Linked DNA regions of Homo sapiens. The protein of the gene in region 1 interacts with the protein of each later gene in a pairwise test. Each region holds a gene or a part of one and is shown in the gene's direction. Other genes may lie near its edges.

Region 1 (4,357 bases):
TGGGAGGAATTTCATGGGGAATGACTACAGCCTTCATGCATGTGGATACATAATCTGAGCCTGAATATGTCATCTTCACATAAAACCACGATTTGGTTATTGACTGTTCTGTGAATCCTGGGTTCCTTGGCTCATGGGAGCTTCAATGTGGCTTTTCTGGCCAGGAACTTGCCTGACATTTTCAATAAGCCAATCCTTAAGTTCAGCATGCTGGTATTTTTCAGTGTCTGGGTCACCGTCCTTCCTGTCTACCAAAACCCGAAATGGGGAAGCTATCAATCCTGGCCTCCACTGATTTGCTGCTGCTTCTCTGTCTGCAGATGCTATGCTGTTCTTGTTTGTTCCTTTTTTTTTTTTTTGAGACAGGGATCTTGCTGTGTTGCCCAGGCTGGTCTCAAGCTCCTGGCTTCAAGCAATTCTCCTGCCTCAACCTCCCAAAGTGCAGGGATTACAGGTGTGAGTCACTATGCCTGGCCTGAGTTTTCAGTTTTTGACAGTGCTCAGTATATGTGGTGGCACACATTTGGACTTTAATACTGAGAAGTTCCATTATTATTACTGTTATTATATTGTATTACTATTACTATTATGTTCTGTCACCCAGGCTGGAGTGCAGTGGCAAGATCACAGCTCACTGTAGACTCAACTTCACAGGCTCCCTAGTAGCTGGGACTAGTAGCTGGAACTAGGACTAGGTGTGCGCCACCACGCTTGGCTAATTTTAAAAAAATTCTTTTTTTAGCCAGGTGTGGTTGTGCACATCTGTAATCCCAGCTATTTGGGAGGCTGAGGCAGGAGAATTGCTTGAACCCAGAAGGTGGAGGTTGCAGTGAGCCGAGATCATGCCACTGCACTCTAGCCTGGGTGACAGAGTGAGACTCCACCTCAAAAAAAAAAAAAAATTTAAATTTTTTAAATTTTAGAGACAGGGTCCTGCTATGTTGCCCAGGCTGATCTTGAACTCCTGGACTCAAGTGATCCTCCCACATCAGCCTCCCAGTGTTGGGATGGTAGGCGTGAGCTACCACACCTGGCCAATTTCATTATTACTTATGAGCCATATGAGTTTAGACAAGACTTTGTGCTCTCCATACTTAACTTTTTTCATTTGCAAGATGGGAGGTATGATTGGGTGGGGCTAATCAAATGAAATACTAATGATTATGAAATCACATTAGTCACCACAGTGATGTGCAAACATAAATTATTGAAATATTGAATAAAAATGGGATTTTATTTGTTCTTTAGTAAAACACAAAGCTGTTCATTTTTTTTCTTTCCTAACATGTGCTGGAAATCTACCATATGGAAATGATACTTGTGAATGGTCATGGACTTTTAGGCCTTTGCTGATCATTAAAATAAAAATCTTCCAGTGATTCCTTTTATAAAAGGACATCAAAGCCTGGGCAACAGAGTGAAATCCTGTCTCTATAAAAATAAAAAAAATTGGCCAGGTGCAGTGGCTCACACCTGTAATCCTAGCACTTTGGGAGGCTGAGGTGGGTAAATCACTTGAGGTCAGGAGTTCAAGACCAGCCTGGCCAACATGGCGAAACCGCATCTCTACTAAAATACAAAAAATTAGCGGGGCATGGTGGTGCACACCTGTAGTCCCAGCTACTCAGCAGGCTGAGGCAGAAGAATTGCTTGAACTCAGGAGGCAGAGGTTGCAGTGAGCTGAGATCATGCCACTGCACTCTAGCCTGGGCAACAGATAGAGACCCTGTCTCAAAAAAAAAAAAAAAAAAAGAATTACCCAGGGTGGTGGCATGTGCCTGTAGTCCCATAGCAGAGATCCCTTGAGTCCAAGAGTTGGAGGCTACAATGACCTATGATTGTGCCACTGCACTCCAGCTTGGGCAATAGAGTGAGTCTCTGTCTCTAAAATGAAAAAAAAAAAAAATCCTATTTTAGGCCAGGCGCGGTGGCTCATGCCTGTAATCCCTGCACTTTGGGAGGCCGAGGTGGGTGGATCACCTGAGGTCGGGAGTTTGAGACCAGCCTGACCAACATGGAGAAACCCTGTTTCTACTAAAAATACAAAATTAGCGGGACGTGGTGGCACATGCCTGTAATCCCAGCTACTTGGGAGGCTGAGGCAGGATAATTGCTTGAACCCGGGAGGTGGAGGTTGCGGTGAGCCAAGATCATTGCACGCCAGCCTGGGCAACAAGAGCAAAACTCTGTCTCAAAAAAAAAAATTAAATTAAAAAAAAATCCTATTCGAGGGTCTCAAATACACTTTTCTTAAAGGGATAGGAAAACCATTAACAAAATATTTAACAGAATACTTCACTTCTGGTCCACCAATAACCACTTCTCAAGCAGACACCAGCTGGGTGTGCTATATAATTCAATTTAATTGTGACAGTATCTACCTGGAGACGGAGTCCAATACCAAAAGCTAACGGCTCACAAGAATGCCCCTCACTGCAAATGTCAGTTGTAAGTCCCAGGATGTGACCTATGCTTCTGACCAACAAGCTGTAAATCAGGGTTTTCATGACCCACTCTTTGGGTTTGATTAATTTGCTGTAGCAGCCTACAGAACTCACAGAAACACTTTACTTACATTCACCCATTTATTACAAAGTGTTTTTTTTTTTTTTAATAGAGCAGGGTTTCACTCTGTCTCCCAGGCTGGAGTGCAGTGGCAGGATCATAGCTCATTGCAGCCTTCAACTCTTGGGATCAAGCGATCCTCCCTCATCAGCCCCGCAAGTAGCTAGGAATATAGGCATGTGCCACCACACTCAACTAATTATTTATTTTTTGTAAAGTTAGGGTCTCGCTCTGTTGTCCAGGCTAGTCTCAACCTCCAGGTCTCAAGAGATCCTCCCACCTCGCTCCTCTCAAAGCACTGAGATTATAGGAGTGAGTCACTGTGCCTAGTCTTACAAAGGATATTTTATTATTTATTTATTTGTTTACTCTTTATTTTGAGACAGGGTCTCACTCTGTTGCCAGGCTGGAGTGTAGCAGCACGATCTTGGCTCACTGCAACCTCCATCTCCAGGGTTCAAATGATTCTCGTGTTTCAGCCTCCCGAGTAGCTGGAATGACAGGCATCCTCCACCACGCCCAGCTATTTTTGTATTTTTAGTAGAGAAGGGGTTTCACCATGTTGGCCAGGCTGGTCTCGAACTCCTGACCTCAAGTGATCCATCTGCCTTGGCCTCCCAAAGTGCTGGCATTACAGGTGTGAACCACTGCACCCAGCCTACAAAGGATATTTTATTTTATTTATTATTATTATTATTTTTTTTTTGAGACGGAGTTTTGCTCTTGTCGCCCAGGCTGGAGTGCAATGGCGCGATCTCAGCTCACTGCAACCTCTGCCTCCCAGGTTCAAGCAATTCTCCTGCCTCAGCTTCCCAAGTAGCTGGGATTACAGGCGCCCACCACCACGCCTGGCTAATTTTTTTTTTTTTGAGATAGAGTCTCACTCTTTTGCCCAGGCTGGAGTGCAGTGGCACAATCTTGGCTCACTGCAGCCTCTGCCTACCAGGGTCAAGTGATTCTCCTACCTCAGTCTCTCAAGTAGCTGGATTACAGGCCCATGCCACCATGCCCAGCTAATTTTTTTTCTGTGTGTCTATGTTTTTAGTAGAGGCAGGGTTTCACCATGCTGGCCAGGCTGGTCTCGAACTCCTGACCTCATGATCCGCCCACCTTGTCCTCCCAAAGTGCTGGGATTATAGGTGTGAGCCACTGCACCTGGCCTAATTTTTGTATTTTAAGTAGAGATGGGGTTTCATCATGTTGGTCAAGCTGGTCTTGAACTCCTGACCTCAAGTGATCCACCTGCCTCAGCCTCCCAAAGTGCTGGGATTACAGGCGTGAGCCACCACACCTGGCCCTACAAAGGATATTTTAAATGATACGAATGAACAGCCAGATGAAGAGATACCTCCAGGCATATGGTTATGTTCTTATTTACCAACCAGAAGGCTCTCTGAGCCGTGTTTTTGGGTTTTTATGGTGGCTTTATTATGGTGACATGATTAATCACATCATTCACTATGGGTGATCAACTCAACCTTCAGTTTTCTCTTCCCTCCCTGGAGGTGGGGACAGAGCTGAAAGTTTCAAAGCTCCAGTCACATGGTTGGTTCCCTGGCAACTAGCCTCACATCCTGTGGTTTGTAGGAGCTTTCCAAAAATCACCCCATTAACATAAACTTAGCTGTGGTGGAAAGGGGATGGTTATGAATAACTAAAGACATTTCTTCCACCTGTCACTCTGGAACTCTTCTAGAGCTATTTTAAGAACTGAATACAAAAGGCCATTTTTTTTTTTTTTTGAGATAGGGTCTCCTTCACTCTGTCACCCAGTGACAGTGGCACAATCTTG
Region 2 (4,357 bases), on another chromosome or scaffold:
TTTGTTTCTGGACTCTTAATATTTTTCTATTGATTTATTTTTCCACTGGGCTATCGTTATGTCATTACCAGACTGTCTGGATGATCATATCTTTGTAATACATTTTGAAATCTGGACTGTAAGTCATTTGACTTTGTATTTCTTTTTCAACATTGTTTTGACTATTTTGAGTCCTTTGGATTTCCATATACATTTTAGGATACAGCTTTATCGATTTTTGTAAAAAAGACAGCTGGGATTATGATTGGGATTGCATTGAATCTGTAGATTTAATTGGGGTGATGGTGGTATTGCCAGCTTGACAATATTGAGCCTTCCAATCCATGAACATGGAATTGAGTTTTGAATGTTAAACCAAACTGGTATTCCTGTACCATTTGGTCATATATTGCTGGATTTGGTTTGCTTGTCTGTTCTTATGGAGACTCTGGTAGTATCAGAGTTTAGGTCTTGGGGTGGTGAGGATGAACATTTTAACATGTTTAGTTTTAAAGTATATTTCATTGAACCTCCCTTCTTCAGTGGTCTTTGAAGAGTTTTGAGTGCAATCACCATTGAATTTCTGGCTGGCTTAGCTGTCTTATTTATAAAGTTATTTTAGGCACCAAGAAATTTCTAACTGCATATAACTTTCAGTATTGACAATTTCTCTGATATTTCTCCTTGAACTTTTCAAAACAATGTATTTCATCACTGTTGCCAAAATTTTCAAGACACATTTATCTTAGCGATTATAAAAGAATATACATATTTTAATTTTAAAACATTTGGAATTATGATTAAACATCCTCAGTTACGTGGAGTATGAAAAATGTTTTAAACTGAGTTAAACCTCTGGAACATTATATTTTAATTTCTTTAGGAAATATATTTACTCTCTAAGGAGCCCTTCATTAAATTACTGTAAAGTTACTTGTGACACCACCCATTTAACTTTTTTTTTCCCCCCGCAATATAGCCGGGGTCTCACTATGTTGGCCAGGTTGTTTTGAATTCTGGACCTCAGGCAATCCTCCTCCTTCAGCTTCCCAAAGTGCTAGAATTACAGGTGTGAGTTACCACACGTGTTCACGTTTAACTTTAATATGCTGAAACTTTTTAACAACAGGAACAGATTGGTCTTTTGTTTCTTTTACCTAGAATTCAGATGTATAGAAGATAAATGTGATGTTATAAACAGATTAAATGTCTGTCTGCATTTTAGAGGTCTTAGTTGGCTTGTTTTTATAAGACAGTGAACCATAATTTTGAGCATAATTATTTCTGAATTTTTATATTTGATAGACAAAGAATCGATGTGTTTTCAGTAATTCAGTGTTAAGCATAAAGAAGGAATGTTTTCTGTCATTGCAGTGGGTTTCTTTTTGGTTGCTTTTGAATTATTAGGTGATCATCAGAGAAATTATTTATGGAAAGAAATCTCAGGGAGATGATCTTGATACTATGAACACACGGAATATTTCCCACCTGTTGTTTATACAAGTGATCAAGTAGGTGGTGTACTATACATTGATAGAGAAATGTAGTGTCTTTGTATACAACATTTCAGATGACTTTTTTTTTTTTTTTTTGTAAACTAATTGTGGACAGTGGAAAATAACCAGTCTCATCATTAGCGTTTGAAGTTTGAAAATTTGGTTGTCGGTAAATCAAATTCTGACTAAAGATGTTAAAGGATGTTACAAGGTATCTGCTAGTGGAAGAGGGAGGCATTTTTCATTAGAAAAATACATTACCAACCAGACAAAATAAAATTATTAATTGTTTCACAGACTGCTTAAAGACTGCATTAAATAAAAATGATCAGAACTTTAAATGTTTTATTTATAGAAGACTATTTATTTATTTTTTTACTATCCTGCTTTTTTAGGTTTTACACACGCTGGAAAGATTGGGAATCATGGTATTCTCAGAGCTTTGGTTTACATTTTTCCTTGAGAGAAGAACAGTGGCAAGAAGACTGGGCATTTATACTCTCTCTTGCTAGTCAGGTGAGGATGCTTCAAGTCTTGTTGCTTCTATGAGAAAAGTAAGCATGTAGTCTAAACTGGTTTATTTGAGCAAACCATGTTGGGGGCAATGTGGTCAAAGAAAAGAATGCTTGACGTGGTATCATCAGTCAACTTGGGTTCTAGTGATGACTGCTGTGTATCAAATAAATAGCATCGCAAGTATAGATGAGCATCGCAAGTATAGATTAGCATCGCAAGTCCTCACTGCAGAGCAGGAAGAGTAACGTGTTTTTATATCGAATGATTAAAAACATCAAAAAGTGAAAGCTGTGCTATGACGGTTACATACAGTAGATAGTCTTGGGATTGCTCTCCGTTCCTGCAGCATAGGCTTGATGCCTATGGTACCTATCCAGGTGAGCTCTGTTCTGTCTCTGGGGACACTTAAGATTACTGGTGTAGGTACTTGCATTGCTGTTGCTGATCTGTCAGGCCCTGAGGAACCAGTTGTCAATCTTCATAATGCTCCCTGTGGTGAGGCAATACCTGTGTCATGTAGGCAAAGGAAAAGGGTAGTTTAGCTTACTCTGAACTAATTACCATCAATAGGAATGATTTCTGATTAATGTGGGAATGAAGTTTTGCAAGTTTGCTAACGTCTTTTTATTAATGAAGGCTGCTTGTGACACAGAACTGTGTAGGGTTGTCCCTTAGACTCTTGGTTTCATGCTTTATTTTGTGAAGCACTTCAGTATACCAAACTGTAAAGTACAAATATATATACAACTACTCCTTTTTTTTTGCAGAAAGCACCATGGTTCATTTGAACTTAGAGAAGGAGGTACCCGATCTTTGGGCAATTTGGGCAGGATTCATAGTGGTTGATTTACATGAGACATGTATCTCACACCATGCATTGTAGCTCGATGATGGACCCATTTAATATTAGTATTCACGAGTTAGTTGATACTGCCATTTACATTTGCATGAAACAGGCTCACTTATTTATTTCAGGAGGACTTTGTTGTAGGTAGTGCTTTCACAGTAACTTAACGAGAATGTGATAATAAAGCATCCTTAGTTATCTGAATCTCTGGTTCCTGAGGTTGGAGAGTTAGTAGTGAGGGATATTTCAAAGTATGTATGCACATCTGTATAATTTGTGAGTTTGGATGGTAAATGATATTTGCATGTAGCCTTTATAGATTTCTTTTACAGTTTTACTGGATTTATTATTTGAGGAATCAAATGCTGCTTTGACAATCTTTTCTTTCTTAAAAACCAACTGCGATAGTATACTGAAGGGGAGGTAGTATTGTTTTTTACACATCAGTTTTCCAGGAGTGGTAATAAATGTTTTAAGTTTTTGTTTTGTTTCGTACAGCCTGGAGCAAGCTTGGAGCAGACGCACATTTTTGTACTGGCACATATTCTTAGACGACCAATTATAGTTTATGGAGTAAAATATTACAAGAGTTTCCGGGGAGAAACTTTAGGATATACTCGGTTTCAAGGTAAGCCATTATTCAGGAACGTTTTACAAGTTTCTTTGAACGGAATGGCTCAGATGTCAGGAAGGAGCAGTGGACAGGGGAATGTGAACAAGGGCAGTGAGGGAGTGGCTCTTTCTTCCTGTGACTGTTGGGATTTTCTTCCCTCTCTTTCCAGGTGTTTATCTGCCTTTGTTGTGGGAACAGAGTTTTTGTTGGAAAAGTCCGATTGCTCTGGGTTATACGAGGGGCCACTTCTCTGCTTTGGTTGCCATGGAAAATGATGGCTATGGCAACCGAGGTGCTGGTGCTAATCTCAATACCGATGATGATGTCACCATCACATTTTTGCCTCTGGTTGACAGTGAAAGGAAGCTACTCCATGTGCACTTCCTTTCTGCTCAGGAGGTAAGCAGTTTCTCCTATGAACTATTTCTAGTAGTGACCTTGTACCAGAAACAGCCTGAAGTGCCTTTCAGGTGTGGTTTTATCTGCACTATCACTTAATTTCTGAATGTGATGGTAGTAATTGCTGAAGGTACTAGCTATACTTTGAAATTTACCTTTTCAAAACTGCTGTATGGGGACACATCAAGGAACTTAAGGTGGTGATGGGTTTTAAGAAGAAAAAGTAAAGATGAGGTTTGTGATTTAAATATGGCATTTTAGGGAATGAGAAGTGAGTTTTTATCTGAAAGCAGAGTTCCAAGAATTGCAAGGCCAGTGTGGTTTAAGAGGGGAAGCAACAGGGAAAGAGAGAGGGTAGGCGGCAGGGGGAGGGAGGAAGGGAGAAGAGGTCAGAGAGGATAGGGATGGGGGGGAGTTCATTGAAGGCTTTTTAAAGCTTTGGGTTTTACTCTGGATAACGTGGTAAACCAATGGCCAGTTTACCCAGAAGAGGAACATTTGGGGTCT
Region 3 (4,357 bases), on another chromosome or scaffold:
TGGTATGCCAGACGTCATAATTGTTTAGTCACATTAGCCATTCAAACTTTGGCAAATCTAATTTGTATTGGAGAAATTTTAGCACCAACTTAGTGATCATGTGGAGGATCTGCTTTGCTTTTATAGAAATGTCATTGTTTCTGTGGAACAACCAAGTTTTGCTTACCTCTCTGCATTTCAGAGCCAGGGTCCAGTTGTTTTGTCACTGCTCCTTGGCGTAACCTCAGCACACTCGTGTTTTACTGGGTGCAGCCTTGGTGACTGCTGCGGGTGCTGCCCCAACGCCAGAGCACTGAGTGACAAGTGGTGAGTGTGAAAAACTCATCACCTCGCAACAAGCTTTGAGCACTTCTCATGGCCTTTCTAGACCACGAGAACTTACATGAACAGATTTTGGAGGTGTGAAACATGTATTTGTTTTATCAAGGATCTCACTTGGCTTTTAGAGACGTTCTCTTACAGAAATGTTGGACTTTGGTGTGTAAGGCAACTTAATGGGATTTTTATTGCAGTAAAATTAATATAGAACTTTAAAAAGGAATTTATTATATCAGCAATCAGCCATTCATAGTTGGGGCTGGAGATTGTAAGATAAACCTTCCTTTGGTAATTTTTTTTTGCCATGTAACATCTTGAGAATTTCTAAAAGTGTTTAATAATAATAAATACCTCATTTGTCTGTCGTTAATTAATAATTTCTATAAACAGCGTCCAATCCACGTATGTCAGGCTGATCTTTGAGTGCCGCATTCTGTCCTGTGGTTGGTACCATTTCCTGTGTTCTTCATGAGAAAATGATACTCCTCATCCCTTTTTTGACTCTGGGCGTCTTCATGTGTGGTTCTTGCCTGTAGCCTGGTGATGCCCTTGGCCCATGGAGGCTGTGTGGTCTCCAAAGACAGCTGTGTTTTTTATATGCTTGTATTTGCTCTTCAGTTGATTTTCCTTCTCTGCTGAGTGCACTTGCCGCTGTTAATGGCCTTGTCTCCATCAGACCTCCGTTTCCTAATGTGCTGCTTCTAAATCTGTGCTTGCAGACACCAAAGGGTAACGGGCTAGAATTATGTCGGAAGGAAAATTCAGCATATTTGGAGTAATAATTTAAAGGGCTCCGAGTGAGCAGAGTGTAGGAAGTGGAGTTCATGGACTTGTGACATGTATTTTGGCAGTACTTTGTGAGCTGTGGTTCCCTGTATCCAGGTGACTGGGTTAGTTAGTTGGGTTGTCAGGGTCAGCATTGTATTCCTATATCTGTTCATATTTTTCTGAACTTGAGCTAATCCCACTCGGTTGGCAATGTAAGTGATACAGCTTTGTGCGTGATTGATGCATTTCATTTGGGATGAGTTTATAAGGATATTTATTATTATTTTTTTTTGAGACGGACTCTGGCTCTGTAGCCCAGGCTGGAGTGCAGTGGTGCTATCTTGGCTCACTGCAAGCTCCGCCTCCCGGGTTCACACCATTCTCCTGCCTCAGCCTCCCGGGTAGCCGTGACCACAGGCGTCCGCCACCACGTCCGGCTAATTCTTTTGTACTTTTTAGTGGAGACGGGGTTTCACCGTGTTTTGCCAGGATGGTCTTGATCTCCTGACCTCGTGATCCACCTGCCTCAGCCTCCCAAAGTGCTGGGATTACAGGCGTGAGCCACCGCGCCCAACCTCTAAGGAGATTTTTGAGCTGTGAATTGGGAGAACATGGTGGCGTGACCCCATGGGGCTTAGGTTCTTTAGTGACCCGTTGTCCCAGCACTGACTTTTCTTGAGATTTGTGACTAAACTTGTGGCTGTATACAGATAATTAAAATTCCTGACAGCATGTTAGATTATGATGTTTGAAAGACTATATAAAATATAAAACATGTTAAGATGAGAGAATTTGATTTTAGTATCTGGCATTAGTTGATGTTCTGAGGTTTAACGCTGTCACCCTGCAGTCCGACCTTGTGAGCTTTACACGTGTACAGTGGTATGCAGCATCATGATGGAAGATGGTGCACACAAGATCTAGTTCTGGAAGTTTTGGATGGGCTTAATATATAGGCCCCTTATTGAACAATTCCTTACTGAATTGGTTATTATTATTATTTTTTTATTACTGTGAGTTGATGGGCTTAAATTGCAACTTGAAGGAACATTCGTTGCCTTAAAAGCCATATTGTGTTTTACAGTGGCTTAGGGAGAGAATGAAATCAAGGAAAATGTCAACGCATTTGCTTGTTTAATACCACTCAAAGCTGTGAACTGTCATCCTGCCATCCCTCAAATATGCATGTTACTCACGAAGCGGAGGAAAAGTGGTGTTGCATAATTGAGCTGAGCCGTTTTATATCAATTTTCTCTCTTTAGGCTCAAAGTGCTGACAAATAAAGCTTCTGTGATGCTCTTTATGAAAGGAAACAAACAGGTAAAGAACTCAAAAATGGTTTTATTTGTAATTTCTTTTGATGTTAACATCTGCAACAAGGGGACAGTTAAATCTTTTTCCTAGCTTTAGCTAATGAAGCTGTAGCGATATCAGGAAGTTATCCACGCCTTAATTGGTGCTTACGGAGATCAAACAAAGTAATCTACATTTTGCTTGACTTTATCATCAACATCTCAGTGGGGTGCATTTCTTTCTGCTGCCAAACTTTGTCAGCTAATGTGGTCAACACTGTTAACACTTTACTGGTTGTATGAGTTGTTATGTCATTATCCTTTGTTTGAGTTTGTGGACTGCTGAAGTGTGCAGCTGAGTCAGTGGACTTCCTGAATGCAGGGAACCTGGTCGTGCTTGGGTTTGCACCCCTAGATCGTCCTTTTGTGACAGTGGAGGAGCAAACCCTGGCTGTAGCAGGTGTGCTCTGTGTGTTTGATGAATGAGTGAAATGGTCAGCAATTCTCATTTTTAATGGGATGGTTCTTACAGCTTTTTGATGTAAGTACATATTGATTATGCGTCATTTTGAATATCAAGTTTGATAGATTACTTCCACCGATAGTTTGAGCAGAACTAATTTTCTTTCAGATTGAGATCAGAGTGGTAATTTCCAGAAACCAGCCATACACATTTATATCATATTTTGTAATTTTCATAGCAATTGAACCTCTACTTAATTCTCAATCAGTTGTTGAAGTAGGCAGGGTTGGACAGACTTTGGCCTGTTTTAGAGATAAAGAAACCAAAGTTTTGAAAGGTGAGGCTGTTGGAATAAAGAAACTGCCTCACTTGTTAGCAAGATGCACCGGGCAAGTGACATGGAGAACCACTTTGCTCATTGGGAAAGGGACACAATACTTCACAGGGCAGACTCTGGTTGCCATAACTAGTGTATAAGTTAACATAACTAGTATAATGAAGCTAATTAGTTAACATAACTGGTTAATATAATTAGGTAATAATGAAAGTAACAGTAACAAAGAAAATGTTAATATAAATTTCAGCATGTTGGAAACATTAGGTTAGGGCCTAAATTCTTTGATTTTGGTTCAGTGTATTGAAACAATAGAGGAAGTTAATAATTCCTAGTAATGATAAAGTGACATTTTTTCTTATTCTCGGTAATGGTTTAAGTGGATATTTATTCTCAAAACTATTTTTTTCTGGAAACCTAGAAAGTATTAATACATTTTGGAAACAATGTTATTGGGGCTATTAAAATGTTGACATGGTACCATATCTTTTCCACAAGATTGCTGGAATTTGGAGTCCTGTGGCATGAAAAAAGCTTAAGATTTTCATAAACTCAAAAAAGTGTTAGTATTCTGTAATGTAAAAATAAATGAGGCTGGATGCGGTAGCTCATGCCTGTAATCCCAGCACTTTGGGAGGCCAAGGCAGGTCCGAGGTCAAGAGATCGAGACCATCCTGGCTAACATGGTGAAACCCCATCTTTACTAAAAATACAAAAAGTTTGCTGGGCGTGGTGGCGCATGCCTATAGTCCCAGCTACTCGGGAGGCTGAGGCAGGAGAATCGCTTGAACCTGGGAGGTGGACATTGCAGTGAGCCGAGATCACACTCCAGCCTGGGGACAGAGTGAGACTCTGTCTCAAAAAATAAATAAATAAATAAATAAATAAATAAAATAAAAAGAAAAATGGGAGTCAGAATCCAGTTGGAAATGGGAAAATAATTGTCATAATCATTGCAAAAAGGCTAAGTGAGTTAAGATCATTTTGCATGAGTGAATTAAACAATGAACTCAAATCTCTGTAGAAAATCTCGGTTTCACTTAGAGGAACTTTTTGACCACAGAGAATATAAACTGTTGGAACACATGTCATCTCAAGTGGTTACAAACCAAAGGAAAAGGAAGTCTGTGGGTCACGTGTGCCTGGGTTGATGTGTAGATGGGTTCGTACTTGAAGAGGGGA
Region 4 (4,357 bases), on another chromosome or scaffold:
CAGATATGGGAGGCCAAGACACAGGTCCTATGTTTGCCTGTTTCAGCTCATCATAGGGGTTATTTTCTAACCATCAGATTAAACCTGCATTTTTAAGGTTAAAATACAAAGTAAAGTGCACAGGTCGTTCCTACAGTACATAGAGTAATCTTTCTTCACTCCCAAGATAACCATTTTAAAATCCTCTATGTTGGAGTATTTGTCTTTATAACTTGAAATCATGTGCTTATTTTTCTGTTTATCTTGATTTACTCAACTTTAAGCAAAGATATTTTTATTTTTATTTTTTGTTCTTTTAAAAAAATTACTTTAACATTCTTGAACTTTTGTTTCTGAATGTATTAGGTTATATCTTTTTTTTTTTTTTTTTTTTTTTGAGAACGGAGTCTCGCTTTGTTGCCAAGGCTGGAGTGCAGCGGCACGATCTCAGCTCACTGCAACCTCTGCCTCCCAGGTTCAAGCGATTCTCCTGCATCAGCCTCCTGAGTAGCTGGGATTACAGGCACATGCCACCACACCTGGCTAATTTTTGTATTTTTAGTAGAGACGGGGTTTCACCATGTTGGCCATGCTGGTCTTGAACGCCTGACTTCAGGTGATCTGCCTGCCTTGGCCTGCCAAAGTGCTGGGATTACAGGCATGAGCCACCATGTCTGGCCAGTATTAGACTATATCTTAACTCGCTGTTCTCTCCCTTTCTTCCCCACCACACTCCCACTCCGCTTTCCTTTTCTGAGCCCTCTACTAGCTGTGTGAGCTCTCTGTTGGTTGGTTCTAAAAATGGAAAAGTAGTCAAACAGCATTTGTAACAATGCACATATATGTGTTATTTACTGTGTAATCACAGAGGAGATGCTGGACTTTCAGATGGGTCTTTATATTTGTGCCATTCAACAAATGTGTTTTGAGAATTTTGTTCTTTAACTGTAATTTACTCAAAATCATACTGGGTTTTTAAATATTTCGTATTGTAGCTGACTGTACGCTGCTTTCTTTTCCTAGCATTTCTGTTTCCCCTTCTTTCTTTTGAGTAGAAGAAACCTACACCTTTCTTTGCTCTCGGATCTTCTAGCTTCTTCTTCACACTCTTTGTGGGATGCCCTGATGGGCTTCGAGGGCTGCTGCATTGTTGTCGCCCTCGAATTTCTCTCCATTTTACTCTTGGGTTAGTTCTGCCTGTTCCTCACCCCACGTTGTTGTCTGTCTTTGTTCCTTGTTTGTTTTGCTTTAGTACTTTAATTTATTCAGAAGTGGTGCATGAAAGTTTAATTTGGCATCCTTGTATGGTTTACACATTCAGCTGACAATCCGTCTTCTAAGAGTTATCAAAATAACGACCTCCAAAAGTCATCAACACTTTGGGTCTGCTGGTGTCCACCAGCCCTTGTTGGCTTTTATGAATATTTCATTTATGCCTCTTTACACGACTTTGTCCACTGACTTGAACTGGAAGCCCTTCTCCACTCTTGCATGCCTTCACAGAGAAAATCAAGGCCATTTGTTTTAAGCTTCTTTGATTTCTTTTCTCATCTTTTGTTATTACTCTCCTATTATTACCTCTATTTGTAGCCATTCCTCCTTTTTGTCCCAGTGGTAAAAGTGCAAATTCCTGTCCGTGGCTAATTTTGTCCATCTGTGCTTTGGATCTCATTTCTTCCAACCCTTAAATCTTTATTTCTCCTGTATTTCAGCCTTTTACTATATATGCGTTAATATTTATGTATAATGTTTATGTATTACACATTATATGTTATGTGTTATACAGGTATACTTTGATATTTCTGTATTACATGTTATCCATATAAATATATGTAATACTTATGTGGTACATATTACATACTTTAAAGCTTCTTGAAAGCGTGTCCCCATTTATTGTTAGCATTTTGACTGCATGCACACGCCCCAGACACTTTAGCCTGGGCTCTGTCCCCTGCTTATGCCGCTAAAACTGCTCACTGGTGATCTCAGTGCTGTCAAATCCTGTGGATGCCGTTCTGTCCTAATTTTACTTGAAGCATTCAACACTGACCGTTTTTTTTTTTTAATGCCCTCTTTTCTCTCCTTCTCTGATGCTGTTTCATGGCTGCTCCCAACTTTCTTTCCATTCCTCTTAGTCATCTTGTTGGGTCTTCATCTGCTCACCCTTTCGATATTGGTTTTACTCAGAGTTCTGTCCTTGATTTTCTGATCTTAATCACAGCCATAGTTTCATCCACCCCTGGGTGTGGATGTCTTTCAAATCTTAATCTCTAGACCACCCTTTCCCCCCTCAAAAGACCTGGTGCTCGTGCTTGGATGTCTCACTGATGTCTCAGACATAAGTTGTGCCTGCCGTGTGATAGATACTCAATATGGATTTGAATGAATGCGTGTCTTGAATATAGGAATTGAATGGCTCTCAATTTCTACTGTGTGTGTGTGTGTGTGTGTAGCTTTAATAAGCTGCTGAATTATTGCTGAATTATGCTTATTCAGAGTTTGTTTTACAAGGTCATTACCTCTCTTCCTTTTTTCTGTTGTCATTTTAGTAGGTCATTGTACTTTTGTCATAGGAAAGAAGGAGAAGAAAAAAGTTTGTCTGTTTTTGTTGCTGTTTCTTTTTTTTGAGACAGAGTCTCACTCTGTCGCCCAGGCTGTAGTGCAGTGGTGCTATCAAGGCTCACAGCAATCTCTGCTTCCTGGGTTCCAGTGATTCTTGTGCCTTAGCCTCCTGCGTAGCTGGGATTACAGGTGCATGCCACCACACCCAGCTAATTTTTTTATTTTTTCTTTAGTAGAGACAGGGTTTTACCATCTTGGCCAGGCTGGTCTCGAACTCATGGCCTCAAGTGATCCACCTGCCTTGGCCTCCTAAAGTGCTGGGATTACAGGAATGAGCCACTGCACCCAACCATTGTTGCTGTTTCTGAATAGCTGTTATTGAAATGTGGGGGGAGGAGGTCCAAATGGATTCTCAAAGTGAAGTATATGTTACCTGTGGATTTAATTTAGCTGTGCATTCCCAGTCCTTTACTGTCATGGATAATAGACATGAATTGTGTATATATATATTTTGCCATGGATAGTATTTTTCTTTTCGGAGAAGGAGGGGTTTGATTTGGGCAAAGTGTTTATGGGAAAGAGACAGCTGGTGAAGTGTGAGTGTGTGGAAATACATGAGAAACGCCTGATCTCTCCATGTCATCTGCGTTGGTAGAGCCCTGTGCTTGCCAGGTGTTGTGGTGACAGGTGCAAAACAAGGGTGCCCAATTTAGAGGTAAATGCTAAAAGGCCAGTGTCATTTGCGGGTGAATTATTTAATTACAGACAAAGGGTATCAGTTAAACATTTTACAGAGTGCTGTCAGAAATAAAATAGCTTTTAATTTCATGTAAAGTGTTGTAAATGTTCTCATCCATTCTCATGCAGTAGAAAAAATGAAGAACCTAGAGAAAGAATTGGCTGCCGTAAAAAAAATTCTCAAGTGATATTTTTGGGTTTTTTAATAGTGCTTGCTCCCAAAACACACCCTGCCCCCCAACACCAACTAACAGTCTACAGCTTAGAAACGAGCAATGGATAGGGTCAAGAGACCTGGGATCTGCTGTTCCACCTCCTGTACCACACTTTTTTTAGTTGTAAGGGGAAGATTATATGTATTTCCTTCAGTAACGCTAAGAGGAGGAAACAAAATATTCTGAGGTCATTAGAAAGGGAGCATAAGTATTCCCCCTTTTTATTAGAAAGTTGATTGATTATGGCTGAACTAACCACCATTATCAACTGAGATGAGTAAGTTTTGAGGCTTGAAATAGAAATGGTTTGAAATGCAAATTTTTATGTGCAGCTACTGTTTTGACAACCATATCATTCCTCCTTCTTTTTTGTAGGCTTTAGAATCCAAATTAGCAGCTTGCAGGAATTTTGCAAAGGACCAAGCATCACGAAAATCCTATATTTCAGGGAATGTTAACTGTGGGGTGCTGAATGGCAATGGCACAAAGTTCTCTCGATCAGGGCATACATCTTTCTTCGACAAAGGGTAAGTCCTGAATGTTTTAAGTGATAATTTTTTGAGTAGTAAAGTGACAGGTTAGTAAGTGAGCATAATGAAGCCTTGAAAAGGTAAACTCAGCTTGACAAACCTTCCCGAAGCCTGTTATCATTCTAATCTTAGGTGACATGACGTCTGTTGTTGTCCTCTAGTCCCCATGGAGTCTGTTGCCCCAGGAACCCTGAATCTGAGGCTTCTGTCCTGGGAAGCAGACTCTTGAAAGGCAGCAGTGTGAGGCTCTGGTGAGTCAAAATGACTGCGATAAGGTCCCTGTTCTCCAGGTGCTTACAGGCTGGCAGACTTGGAAATATTTTTTTGGGGTAG
Region 5 (4,065 bases), on another chromosome or scaffold:
GTACCTTGGCTTAATTTGAAGAAGCAGGATGAAAATGAAGGTATCAAAGTTGAAGATTTGTTGTTTATAGTAGATACTATGCTGGAAGAAGTTGAAAATAAGGAAAAGGTAATACCTACATGAACGGTCACCTTCTAATGTTTCTTATCTCAAAAACTGATAAATTGTGGATATTGATATTTGTTCTACTAGAGTTCTATTTGTCTTTTAAAAGTTTTTATTTGGGATTATTTTAAGATAATGAACTCTTTCTTTTTTACCTCTTTTTTGGACAGGACAGCAATATGCCACACTTTCAAACTTTGCAAGCTATTGTTTCTCACTTCCAAAAGTTATTTGATGTGCCTTCTTTAAATGGAGTCTATCCCCGAATGAATGAAGTTTATACTAGGCTTGGAGAAATGAACAATGCTGTGAGAAACCTCCAAGAACTCTTAGAATTAGGTGATGACCTAATTTGTCATTTTGGGCCCCCATTTAAGAATTTTTAATAAATTAACAAAAAGTAGATTAAAAAATGTTTAAGTGAAAAATTGAGGATAACTGAAGCATAAAATGTTTGATGTATGTAATTTTGGAAATTCTCTGTTAAAATATCCTTTTATTTCTCTTTTGCAGATAGTTCATCCTCATTGTGTGTGCTAGTAAGCACTGTTGGAAAACTCTGTAGGCTGATTAATGAAGATGTGAATGAGCAGGTTATGCAGGTATTAGGACCTGAAGACCTCCAGAGGTATTTGTTTTAAAAGTTTACAAAGTATCATCCAGAATGGCTGGGTGTGGTGGCACACGCCTGTAGTCCCAGCTACTTGGGAGGCTGATGTGGGAGGATCACTTGAACCCAGGAGTTTAAGTCCAGTCTGAGCAAGGCAGTGAGACCCTGTCTCTAAACAATAAAAATTAAAATAAGTATTATCGAGAGTTCCTGGAGGGGTGAAATTAAAGACTTTCAAAACTTATTTACCTTCCCTGTTTGGAATAGCATCTTTTGTGTGTGTGTGTGACTGTAAGCACACGCCACCACGCCCAGCTAATTTGTGTGTGTGTGTGTGTGTGTGTAGAGAGAGAGATAGAGACAAGGTTGCACCATGTTGCCCAGACCAGTCTCAAATTCCTGGGCTCAAGTGATCCGCCTGCCTTGGCCTCCCAAAGTGCTGGGATTACAGGTGTGAGCTACCATGCCCAGCCTTGGAATAGCATCTTTTAAGTAACTTGACAATCTAAGATAATCTCAAACCCTTAGGGATGGAGGAAATGCCAAATATTTTCAAGATAAAAATAGATTGTAAGGCCTATAAAGAAGGTCAGGTACTCTTCAGCATAAGCCTGTTTTCAGGAAATATTATATATGGAGAAATTCAAACCTTGTTAGCAACATCATGTAAGTTCTGATTATATCAATAAGTTCTATTTTTAGGACACTACCATAGACCACTGAATAATCATTAATAGTATATTTATTTGATTAGAAGATAAATGTTGAGGAGTTTTTAAAAGACTAGGCATCTATAACATAAAAGCTGGTATTTTTAGAAAATATCAAGACATTGTAGCTATAGTTAAAGCAACTTTCCCCACACCTGACCCCCAATTTTATATTACAGCATATGTGAAGGGAAACACACAATATATACCACATAAACCATATGTTTTGCAAGTTTTCCTAGAAGAACCCTTACATAATCTGACACTTGGTGCTTTTAAAAGGAACATATATCTTGCTATTGGCCTATTTCTTCCTTCCCACAGTTTTACTGACTACTGATTTTTTTTCTTTTTTTCTTTTCTTTTTTTTTTGAGACAGAGTCTCACTCTGTTGCCCAGGCTGGAGTGCAGTGGCTCAGTCTCAGCTCACTGCAACCTCCGCCTCCCAGGTTCAAGCAATTCTCATGCCTCAGCCTCCTGAGTGGCTGGGGTTACAGGCATGCGCTACCACACCCAGCTAATTTTTGTACTTTAGTAGACGTGGGGTTTCACCATGTTGGCCAGGCTAGTCTCGAACTCCTGACCTCAAGTGATCCTCCTGCCTTGGCCTCCAAAGTGCTGGGATTACAGGCATGAGCCACTGTGCCCAGCCTGATATTTTTTCTTAATGTTTAATAGGATACTGGGTGTAAAAGCCAATTATTTTTAGAAAATGCTGTAAAAGCATGATCTAAGAAGCCTTGAGCTTAATGGGAAATTTGCCATGTTAAGAATGTTGTATATTGGCTGGGCGTGGTAGCTCACGCCTGTAATCCCAGCACTTTGGGAGGCCGAGGTGGGCGGATCACGAGGTCAGGAGATTGAGACCATCCTGGCTAACACGGTGAAACCCCGTCTCTACTAAAAATACAAAAAATTAGTCGGGCGTAGTGGCAGGCACTACAGGAGGCTACTCGAGAGGCTGAGGCAGGAGAATGGCGTGAACCCGGGAGGCGGAGCTTGCAGTGAGCCGAGACAGCGCCACTGCACTCCAGTCTGGGTGACAGAGCAAGACTCTGTCTCAAAAAAAAAAAAAAAAAGAATGTTATATATGAATTTAACAAATTTTACATTGATATTGAAATGCTTTTTTAAGAAAAGTGATATTGGATTAACAAAAAGCTCAGAAAGAAAAGACTGTAGTAAATGATCATTAAGTTTATATTTAAATTAGCAATATAGTTTCTATTTTGAAAATGTTCTGTTTGCAATCAGATGCAAGAACCCAAAGTTAGAAATCAGGTTTAAATTGTGCATTTTTTAAACAGCATTATCTACAAATTGGAAGAACACGAGGAATTTTTCCCAGCATTTCAGGCATTTACTAATGATCTACTTGAAATCTTAGGTAAGATCTCTGGTGGTGATGGTGAAATTTTGAGTCTTAAAATGTCAGTGCATTTAAGAAAAGGGTGTTCCTTGGTCACTGGATTAGTATTTTTACCTAGTGGTTGGAAACCACTAACAGTTCTGGAAACACATTCCTTACAAGCAGTTAGAGTTTGTTTGGATTAGTCCATAGAACAGAAACACAGACCCTTAACAGCAATAGGAACTACCTTTGTTGGAGGACCTTATCATGAGAGATGGCATCATTCTGTCCATGCCTAGTTTAACCCTGGCTCTGTCATTGTCTAATGAGAAATATTCTTAGGATTTATGATCTTAGAAGGTCCTTCCTCCCTCCTTTTTTTTTCTTAAGATACCACCTATCTACAAAATTTTTTAAATATACAAATAATATTTCCTCTCTGGTTATATGAAGTAACATAAAGTCATAAATATCTGTGGAAAGGAAAAGATGAAATATTACACTTATACTGAGGGTCAGATTGAGGGCTTCATTAGTAGTAGTGTCTCCTAAAAGGAAAAAATTTGCTTAGGACTCATAAGGCAAAATAGAGACCTTATCTAGTTTAAATATAATTACATATGGCTATAAAATTATTTATCTTACTATTAAGAATGATTTTTAAAGTTTTAAAGTGATGTATTCACCAGTGAATTTTTTCTGTATAGCTCATTTGAAAGATTTTTTTTTTTTTTTAAAGAATGGCTCTTTGCTTTTAGAAGAGGAGATGAAGCTTGGTATGAAAATAAGGGAATGAGTCAATGAAAACTTGATAAGAAGAATAAGTGAAAGAAGTATCTAATTAGAATATATAGCCTACTGAACATAAAGGAAGTTTTGTGACCAGTCTTATGTGCAGTGGGGAAGCAAGGGAGACAATGAGTGAGCTTGCTTTAGGCTTGTCCTCATGTTTAAAAAGATCACAGCAAGTGAAAATGTAATTTGAAAGTTAAACTTGAGATGAGGTATGAAACTGTATAAGTGTGTTGTCTGATATCCTGAAGAGCCTGGTTTCATAGAATAATATGATTCTTGCTTTGGGATTGCTATTAACTTAAGCAGTGATGTTCTCATCATTCATAAATATTTGGCACATTAATAAACATATTTTAATAGGGTGTGCTGGTAACACTTATTTCAGAATGCTTCTATAGAAACTTCCTTTCAGATATTATGACACTCAGCATGGTTCATAAAGATCATTTGCTTCAGAAAGCCAGGTTTCTCTGGAGATGAATTCTGTAATTTGG
Region 6 (4,357 bases), on another chromosome or scaffold:
TGATATTTTTAACTGTTTTCTGCTTCCTACAGTACATTAGTCTGCTAGGGCTGCCAGAGCAAAGTAACACAGACTGGGTAATTTAAACAGAAATTTGTTGTCTTGGAATAAATCTGGAAATCCAAGATTTTCAGACTTCCACATTTCCAAGTAATCTGGAAGTCCAAGATCAAGGTGTCAGCAGGGCTGGTTTCTTCCGAGGCCTCTCTCCTTGGCTTGCAGATGTCCATCTTCTTCCTGTGTTTTCTCATGGTGTTCCCTCTGCATCTGTCTGTGTCCACATCTCCTCTTCTTATAAGGACACACTCATATTGGATTGGGGCCTGACTTCATTTTAACTTAATTACCTCGTTAAAGACCTGTCTCCAGACAGTCATATTCTTAGCTACTGGCGTGAGGACTTCAAAATTTGAATTGTAGAAGCACACAGGTTAGCCCAAAACATAGTGTCAATGACCAAAATTGACTTCCTAAAACAGACCTAACGAGGTAGTAACAGTGGGGTGTGTGAGGATGCATCAGCACACATGATGGGAAAACAGTGCTTATGACGAAGGCACGGAGTGAGTGGTGATGAAGTGTATGCCAATGAACATTAACTGAGGGGCTCAACTTGACCATTCTGATTCTGTGTCTATTGCATTCTGAGAGCTACTTTAGGAGTTCCTGTATTACTTATGTGAATGGATCCTTGTGTCACAGAAAACTAAAAGGTGACTAAGGGTAGGGAGAGGGGCTGTATTGAGCAGTTGTAAATTTTGCCTCAGTGGCCACATGATTTGTTCAGAAGCAAATCACATTTGAAATGTGTTAATTGAAAAAAAATCATTCTATTTTGCTCAACAAAACAAGTTGTTTTCATCATGGGAATCTTGGTCTCCTGGAGGACTGTGATGGTGGAAAGGGGAGTTTGCAAGCTTATTTCATGTTTTATAAAACCTAATGGAATTTTTGTGACTCTGAAATAGGGCCATACAGGATAACTAAATCTTCACATTTCTTTGCTTTTGGTAGGATTGATATCAGCAAAGTGTGTCAACACTGGTTATCGTAGCCGATCAGGAGCTCTGATTGGCAATTGTATAAGTCTTTGAAGAAAAAGGGAAGATGAATTATTAATAAGTGAAGCTTACTAGACTGTCTTTCAAAGCATAAGAACTGTTGAGAGAGAGATAACAGGAAGGGGTACTTGGAGGTGAAATGATTTGGGACCACTGAGTTAAACCAAATTCTCTCTGACTGCCTCCGTATCTGACTTGCCATTAACCCCACTGCAAAATCTTATTTCTAGGTTTTTATCAATTAAAAAAATTTGAACATGAAATTTGGAATCAAAACCTTCATCTAAATAGATCTCTATATCAATTATGAGAAAGTGCCAGCAAAGAGAAAGCTACGGTTATTCACACTTTTCAGTCTAATGGTATTTATATTCTTTTGGCTGATGTTACTTAACTGAAAACAATGCTATTATTATCCACCTTCACTAAGTAAAATGAGTCAATCTGTGTTCTTTTCTGCAAGTCAGGCTAATGCATGTACTGTTGCTGTCTCTGAGTTTGTTTTGGTTCTGAGTAAGATTTTGTAAATTCTCTACTTCTCATTTTCTACCCTTGTGTCTAAAGCCATTTAAACAGTGACTTTTTTTTTTAAAGAGGGAGTCATATGCCATATCTAGACTCTTTAGATGTGTTCCTAACTCAGGTGGGGGAAACACAGCTTTAAAAACTGCTTATTTGCATGTTCCATACAATATCTGATGTGAAGTATGATAGAATTAACACCATAATCTTTTACAGTGGGCAGAAGGGAATCAATATTTATCTAGTGCCAATATTTTTTATATATTGGCTTTTCTGGAGTAATTTACACAACAGACTGAGTTGGTGGTATTTTCTTTATTTTTAAAGGAGAGAAAACTAAGGTCCGAAAAAGTTAAATAGCTTGATCAAGGTCATAGAGCTAGTAAATGGTGAAGACAGGATTTGAATCCTAGCGTGTTGGACTCTGAAGATCGTGCATAGTGTCTTCGTGACCATATGGTGATGAAGTGGCATTTTGCGTGTGGTGGAGAACATTTCAGGTACCCGGAAAAAGGAAAAGTTATACAAGCCCAGAGTGCCTTGCTTATATGTATGTCCAATAAATGCTTGATCCACTTGGCTAAGCATTTATTTACATGGATTTGTCATATTTGACTTGGCCATCTGATGAACAAAATAATGTCTGTGTCCTTCAAAGGATGAAGTCTTGAGTCGTAATGGGACTAAAAGCACTTAGTCCCAGGATTTCCCTGAGAGCAAGGGGGAATGAGTCCAGGGGGCAGTGAAAAGAAGACTAGATCCCAAGAGGCAGGTAGGACTCCAGGGATTATCAGACCCATGTGGGGCAACAGGTGGCCCAAGAGGAAGATCTGGTTCTAGGAGGTATTCTATTTGGCTCATGGCATATAAAACATTTGTTTACTAGTGCCTGTATTTGACAAGCGGGAGGTTCATATAAATTCCCAGATTGCCTAATTCTTACAAAAATGAAATGATTCCCAGATGGCAGCCATCTGTCAGAGCTGGGCAGGGCTGCCCCTTTGGGAGGGCATTTGTTTTCCAGCTGACCACACCCCCCTTGCAGATGTGTGATTCACCCATGCTCCTGTAAATAAATACATGACTTTGAAAAGCCTCTTGTTCATAGGCAGTGAAAATTCACCTTAGAAAATTAGTGCCCCCTCCAAAATCATACAGGCAGTTGATATCATGAGGAGGTTTAGGAAAGCAGGTCCCATGCTCTCCAGTCCTTTCCTCTTCAGTTTTGGTGGAGAATCAGCTTCTGGGACTTTGAGGACAGGGTACTTATCATCTGAACGGTGGGGTGAATGGGGTTCTGTTTTATCCAGTGCTTCCCTGGACAACTTTCAGAGCCTTGTTTTCTAGTGGTTAAAAAAAAAAAAGATAATGGGGCCTGGTGTGGTGACTCATCCCTGTAATCCCAGCACTTTGGGAGACTGAGGTGGGAAGATGACTTGAGTCCAGGAGTTCAAGCCCAGTCTAGACAACATAGTGAGGCCACATCTCTACAACAAATTGAAAAAAAAAAAAAAGGCCAGGCATGTTGGTGTGCTCACCTGTAGACCCAGCTACTTGAGAGGCAGAGGCAGGAGAATGGCTTGAGCCCAAGAATTTGAGGTTGCAGTGAGTCATGATTGGGCCACTGCATTCCAGCCTGGACAACAGCATAAGACCCCATCTTAAAAAACAGAAAAGAAAAGAAAAAAAAGTGGATAGTATTCTGCATTCCTCTCCCATTATAAGAAGTAAATAAGATGTATGTGAAAGCAATTTGAACCTGTAAAGCTCTGAACAAAGTTCATGTGGATATTTAGACAAGTTCTGCAGAGTGTGCAGCTCAGGGGGAGGTAGCCACGCCCTGGTCCAGATTTTGGTCTCTAGAAGGACTCTTGTAGAACCTCTAATCATTAGGGACTGGCTCCATGGAGCTGCTTTTCCATAAAACATTACCTCCTCAGATGATATCTCTAAATCTGATAAGTCCCAACGGAAACATTATTCTTACATTTATTTGAAAATATTTAGGACACCATGTGTGTGAGGCCCTGGGCTGCATCCTAGAGATGTGACGGGAAGTAAATGGCCCCCTCCAGGAGACAGGCAGCAGTAGTGTGGTGTGTGAGGCACTGTGAGAGCTTGGGTCAGGGGGTCAAGGGGGCACACAGTAGAAGCCACTCTATTATTATTAATAGACTCCACTGTTGTTGATGGCTTGTTTTTAAATGACAGAGGAATCCTGGGCCAGATGTTCTAGGGAAAAGAAAAGAGTGTATCAAATGTAACAACTGTGAGTTTGCATGAAGGATATGGCTTCCCACCCAGGCCTACCTACCCTGTGACCATCCTTCATGGTACTTTTCTGACCACGTAGCTGGAAATCCTTCTTACTGCTTGTCTGTTCCAAGGCTGAGATCCTGCCAGCTGGATCATACTTCTCATTCTATTTCTGTCGGGCACTGGGGTGCGGCCAGGACATAGACTGCCTTTCAAATCTGTGGAAAAGGATGATGTCAGGCCTCTGCCGAGGGCCCTGTGAGTTCTCTCAGAAGCCTTAGGCCTGTGGAAAAGCATAGAGCTTGAAAATTAAAACTCCATGGCCAGGCACAGTGGCTCATGCCTATAATCCCGGCAGTTCGGGAGGCCGAGCTGGGAGGATCACTTGAGCCCAGGAGTTTAAGACCAGCCTGTGCAACATAGTGAGACCCTGTCTCTAAAAAAAATAATAATAATAAAATAAAATAAAGAAAAAAAAGAAAAGAAATTAAAATGCCAGGTGGCTCTGCACATTTCCA
Region 7 (4,357 bases), on another chromosome or scaffold:
CGATGCACTTGGCCATCTGCTGAACAGTGACCTCCACCACCTTGGGGTGGGAAGAGGCAACTGTGAAGAGAAGAGAGGAGTCAACCCAGGGGAGCAGGATTCTCTCCACACCACCCCCAAACAGGGCTCTGCTTCCTTAGGAGGGGCTGATAATCAGCCCACTGGCAAAATTTCACCATGTGCAGGTGAGAAGTTGGGTGAAAGGACATCCAGCAGCTTTTCACCAGGTGACAGTCATGTGGCTTTTATTCCTAATAATCTGACTGACAGCAAGCCCTTGGATGTCATTGAGGAGGAAAGGCGGTTGGGCAGTGGGAATAAGGACAGTGTTATGGTTTTGGTGTTCAATCCTTCTGTTGGAGAGAACAAGACGGAGGTGCCTGAGCCCCTGGACCCTCAAAGTGGCCGCTCAGAAGCACGGGAAAGCAAAGAGGTCACCACATCTGTTGCTGAAAACAGGAACCTTCTAGAGAATGCAGATAAGATTGAAAGCACCTCAGCAAGAGCAGATTCAGTTCTCAATATTCCAGCACCCCTCCACCCAGAGACAACTGTGAACATGACCTACCAGCCTACAACACCCAGTAGCAGTTTTCAGGATGTTAGCGTGTTCGGTATGGATGCGGGGTCCCCCTTGGTAGTTCCACCCCCTACTGATAGTGCACGCTTGTTGAACACGTCCCCCAAAGTGCCTGACAAGAACACTTGCCCCAGTGGGATCCCCAAGCCTGTCTTCACACATTCCAAGGACACACCTTCCTCGCAGGAGGGAATGGAGAACTATCAGGTTGAAAAAACAGAGGAGAGGACAGAAACTAAGCCCATCATTATGCCCAAGCCCAAGCATGTGAGGCCCAAGATCATCACCTACATCAGGAGGAATCCCCAGGCCCTGGGCCAGGTGGACGCCTCGCTGGTTCCAGTGGGGCTTCCATATGCCCCGCCCACATGTACCATGCCTCTTCCCCACGAAGAGAAGGCAGCAGGTGGTGACCTGAAGCCATCTGCCAACCTCTATGAGAAATTCAAGCCAGACCTGCAGAAGCCAAGGGTCTTCAGTTCCGGATTGATGGTGTCTGGAATCAAGCCCCCGGGACATCCTTTCAGTCAAATGAGTGAAAAGTTTTTGCAGGAGGTAAGAGAATGTCATTATGATATGGTCTATAAGTTGACTGTCCCAATATCTGTGACATATTTTCAATGAGTTATGAAAGTAAAATGTCCTCTTTAAGTGAATTACAGATTTTCATGGATACACTTGTGAAGAAATGGAGTTTTTGACTAGAGGAGATTGTCTAGAGAAATGACCATTTTTAACTAGAAGAGTCTGATTATCTTAATAAGATGTACCCAATATCTAAGGAGACCCATTTAAATTTCACTTGCTATAATTCATATGAAATTAGATGAGTATGCCTTAAATAGGCTTCCATGTTTAAATAAGTGAATATAATATAATATAAGCCAGGTTAAAGGAAGAAAGAATGCAAAATTACTGTGTTCTTCAAATAGATCAGACTCATTCCTCAATGGGGAGTATTTTCTACCTGGGAGTATCTCTTATTCGCATGCGTGAAGAACAGCAAATGAGCAGAAAACGGTGTGTTAGGCATGGACTCTTTCTTTAAAATAAAAGTAATAATTACAACTAACATATAATTGAGGGCCAGCTCTACACTGGGCCCATATAATACAGCGTTTGATCTTTGTTAATCTTCACTAATCCTTGCAGTAATTCCCTGAGGGTTGGTATTGCAGTTTTTTGTTTGTTTATGTTTTTTTTGGCTTTTTCTTTGTTTTTGAGATGAAGTCTCGCTCTGTCGCCCAGGCTTGAGTGCAGTGGCGCGATCTCGGCTCACTGGAAACTCCACTTTCTGGGTTCACGCCATCCTCCTGCCTCAGCTTCCCTAGTACCTGGGACTACAGGCGCCCGCCACCGCGCCTGGCTACTTTTTTGTATTTTTAGTAGAGATGGGGTTTCACCGTGGTCTTGATCTCCTGACCTCGTGATCCGCCTACCTCGGCCTCCCAAAGTGCTGGGATTACAGGCGTGAGCCACCGCGCCCAGCCGGTATTGCAGTTTTTATCACCGTATAGATACAGAGACAGACAGAGAGCTTTAAGTCACCCACCACAAAGGAAGGAGAGCTCTGAGAGTCTCACTCAGGCCTGTGCAGTTTCAGACTGCACTGTGCTGTCCTTTTTAGCTATGGTGAGTCATCCTTCGAGACCTCAGAACTAAGATTTGTCTCCTGAAGGAGTCTCTTCATGACAGCTGAGTGATCAGTTAAAAGTAAGGCAGGAGCCAAGGACAGCGGCTCACACCTGTAATCCCAGCATTTGGGAAGCCGAGATGGGCAGATCACAAGGTCAGGAGATCGAGACCATCCTGGCCAACATGGTGAAACCCCGTCTCTACTAAAAATACAAAAACTAGCTGGGTGTGGTGGCATGTGCCTGTAGTCCCAGGAACTGGGGAGGCTGAGGCAGGAGAATTGCTCGAACCCAGGATGTGGAGGTTGCAGTGAGCTGAGACCACGCCACTGCACTTCAGCCTGGCAACAGAGCGCGACTCAGTCTCAAAAACAAGGGCAGGATGAGATCATCCTGTCTCTAACACCTTCCAGGGCTGCCCAGGTTGCTTGGAACACAAGCTGGAGCCTGTAGGATGGCTCTGCCTTTAGGATGGGATGTGCTCACTGGGGGTCCGTCAGCTACCTGCCCTCCTCTCCTTCCACTCTCCCTTTCTCACTCTGCTGCTTCAGGACCTTTGCACCTCCCTCTGCTTGGAATGTTCTCCCAGTTATCCAGATGGCTCTCTCCCTCACTCCCTTTAGGTCTGTGTTCCAATGTTATCTCCTTGGGAAGGCCACCCATCTTCTCTCTGAATCCCTTTTCTCTGATTTATTTCTTCCTAGCACCTACCTCCACCTGCCATAAATACTTTTTTAGTTTTCCTGAATTGACTATAATGTAAACTCCATGAGGGAAGGGATTGTTTTCAATATTTTGTTCCCCGTGTTCCCAGAATTTAGAATGGTGCTTCTTATAAGTATGTGCTCAAAAAATGTTGAGTGATAACTGAATCATGAACTCCATATGTGTTGGAACTAAACAAAAGTGTACCAAGGGTTTCTAGAGATAGGATGATTGAGTCCAAATTTGGACTCTAGCTTGGTTAGATATATTGGCATATTTAAAGAATGCATCAATCACAACAGAAGTTGTCATATCTAGCACAAAGACAAAGTTGAATCCATTCTCGGCAGCAGACATTGACTTAGGCAATCACTGACGAGGTGCCCCAACAAGCCGACCAGCTGTGCTGCCTTGCCGCAGGTCCTTAGCAACCAAATCACACAGCTTGCTCCCTGTGTTCTGACTCTGGGCCTGCCAACAGGCCTCTGATTATAACGGACTTCCTACCTCACATCTCTAGAGAGAGGATTCTGGCTGGAGAATTCAGGGGTCCAGTCAGCTTGGCAGGGGTTTGTCTTGCTGTGCGGGGCTGCATGGCATCTTGTTTATAAGTGGCTTCTTACTCTGTGCCCTGCAATGAGAACGTGTTCTGGCTAGAGGACACTTGAGTCTGGCTTTAGGCAGTGGTCTCCAATTAAAAGTGAACAAATTGCCCTTCTGGATTTTTACGTCAGTCTCTGAGTTTAGTTATAGTGAGTCATTTTCAAATTTCTAAACATTCATCCACCTGGGCCTCTGAGGCTCAGGGTCAGGCTCTGAAGCTTTGCTCTTCTATAAGGCAGGGAATCACTGCAGAGGTTCCATGAAGAGACCTGTCAGTCCATTTGTGTTGCTATGAAAGAATACCTGAGGCTGGGTAAATTATAAGGAAAAGAGGTTTATTTGGCTCATGGTTCTGCAGGCTGGAGAGGAAGCATGGCACCAGCATCTGCCTATGGTGAGGCCTCAGGCTGCTTCCACTCAAGGGGGAAGAAGAAGGGGAACCACGTGTGCATTGATCACGTGGTGAGAGATGAGCAAGAGGGGAGTGGAGGAGGTGCCAGGCCTCTCTTTAAGGACCAGCTCTCATGGGAACTAATAGAGCAAGAACTTGCTCATTACCAAAAGGAGGGCACCAAGCCATTCATGAGGCATCTGCCCCCATGGCCCACACACCTCCCACTAGACCCCACCTCCAACATTGGAGATCACATTTCAACATAAGAGTTGGCACAGACAAGCCAACCATATCCAAACCATAGCCAGAGCCTAGATTTTTCTCTATAAAAACAAACTCATGAGGGAAATTGATTTGGATATGTAGGCCCAAACCCCACATTGTCTGTAATTCTTTCTTTGTGCCCTTCTATATTTTCGTGTATATTTCTTTTCTGTGTTG

The links.
Region 2: the proteins of ZNF490 (region 1) and ZRANB1 interact in binary tests that used the Homo sapiens proteins (3 or more experiments, as listed by UniProt).
Region 3: the proteins of ZNF490 (region 1) and GLRX3 interact in binary tests that used the Homo sapiens proteins (3 or more experiments, as listed by UniProt).
Region 4: the proteins of ZNF490 (region 1) and NDEL1 interact in binary tests that used the Homo sapiens proteins (3 or more experiments, as listed by UniProt).
Region 5: the proteins of ZNF490 (region 1) and CEP70 interact in binary tests that used the Homo sapiens proteins (3 or more experiments, as listed by UniProt).
Region 6: the proteins of ZNF490 (region 1) and VWC2 interact in binary tests that used the Homo sapiens proteins (3 or more experiments, as listed by UniProt).
Region 7: the proteins of ZNF490 (region 1) and MTUS2 interact in binary tests that used the Homo sapiens proteins (3 or more experiments, as listed by UniProt).

What each region holds. Positions count from the first base shown.
Region 1 is NC_000019.10:12,603,739-12,608,095, reverse strand, and holds part of ZNF490 (zinc finger protein 490), read left to right. Parts: intron 1-4,357. UniProt on the Homo sapiens protein: May be involved in transcriptional regulation.
Region 2 is NC_000010.11:124,979,839-124,984,195, forward strand, and holds part of ZRANB1 (ubiquitin thioesterase ZRANB1), read left to right. Parts: intron 1-1,386; exon of another isoform or gene 1,387-1,490; intron 1,491-1,870; coding exon 1,871-1,991; intron 1,992-3,336; coding exon 3,337-3,466; intron 3,467-3,620; coding exon 3,621-3,850; intron 3,851-4,357. UniProt on the Homo sapiens protein: Ubiquitin thioesterase, which specifically hydrolyzes 'Lys-29'-linked and 'Lys-33'-linked diubiquitin. Also cleaves 'Lys-63'-linked chains, but with 40-fold less efficiency compared to 'Lys-29'-linked ones.
Region 3 is NC_000010.11:130,167,085-130,171,441, forward strand, and holds part of GLRX3 (glutaredoxin-3), read left to right. Parts: intron 1-2,348; coding exon 2,349-2,406; intron 2,407-4,357. UniProt on the Homo sapiens protein: Together with BOLA2, acts as a cytosolic iron-sulfur (Fe-S) cluster assembly factor that facilitates [2Fe-2S] cluster insertion into a subset of cytosolic proteins.
Region 4 is NC_000017.11:8,456,140-8,460,496, forward strand, and holds part of NDEL1 (nuclear distribution protein nudE-like 1), read left to right. Parts: intron 1-3,869; coding exon 3,870-4,021; intron 4,022-4,357. UniProt on the Homo sapiens protein: Required for organization of the cellular microtubule array and microtubule anchoring at the centrosome. May regulate microtubule organization at least in part by targeting the microtubule severing protein KATNA1 to the centrosome.
Region 5 is NC_000003.12:138,496,778-138,500,842, reverse strand, and holds part of CEP70 (centrosomal protein of 70 kDa), read left to right. Parts: coding exon 1-108; intron 109-275; coding exon 276-444; intron 445-618; coding exon 619-733; coding exon of another isoform or gene 734-746; exon of another isoform or gene 747-959; intron 960-2,732; coding exon 2,733-2,812; coding exon of another isoform or gene 2,813-2,979; exon of another isoform or gene 2,980-3,507; intron 3,508-3,515; coding exon of another isoform or gene 3,516-3,580; exon of another isoform or gene 3,581-3,933; intron 3,934-4,065.
Region 6 is NC_000007.14:49,779,608-49,783,964, forward strand, and holds part of VWC2 (brorin precursor), read left to right. Parts: intron 1-4,357. UniProt on the Homo sapiens protein: BMP antagonist which may play a role in neural development. Promotes cell adhesion.
Region 7 is NC_000013.11:29,025,769-29,030,125, forward strand, and holds part of MTUS2 (microtubule-associated tumor suppressor candidate 2), read left to right. Parts: coding exon 1-1,135; intron 1,136-4,357. UniProt on the Homo sapiens protein: Binds microtubules. Together with MAPRE1 may target the microtubule depolymerase KIF2C to the plus-end of microtubules. May regulate the dynamics of microtubules at their growing distal tip.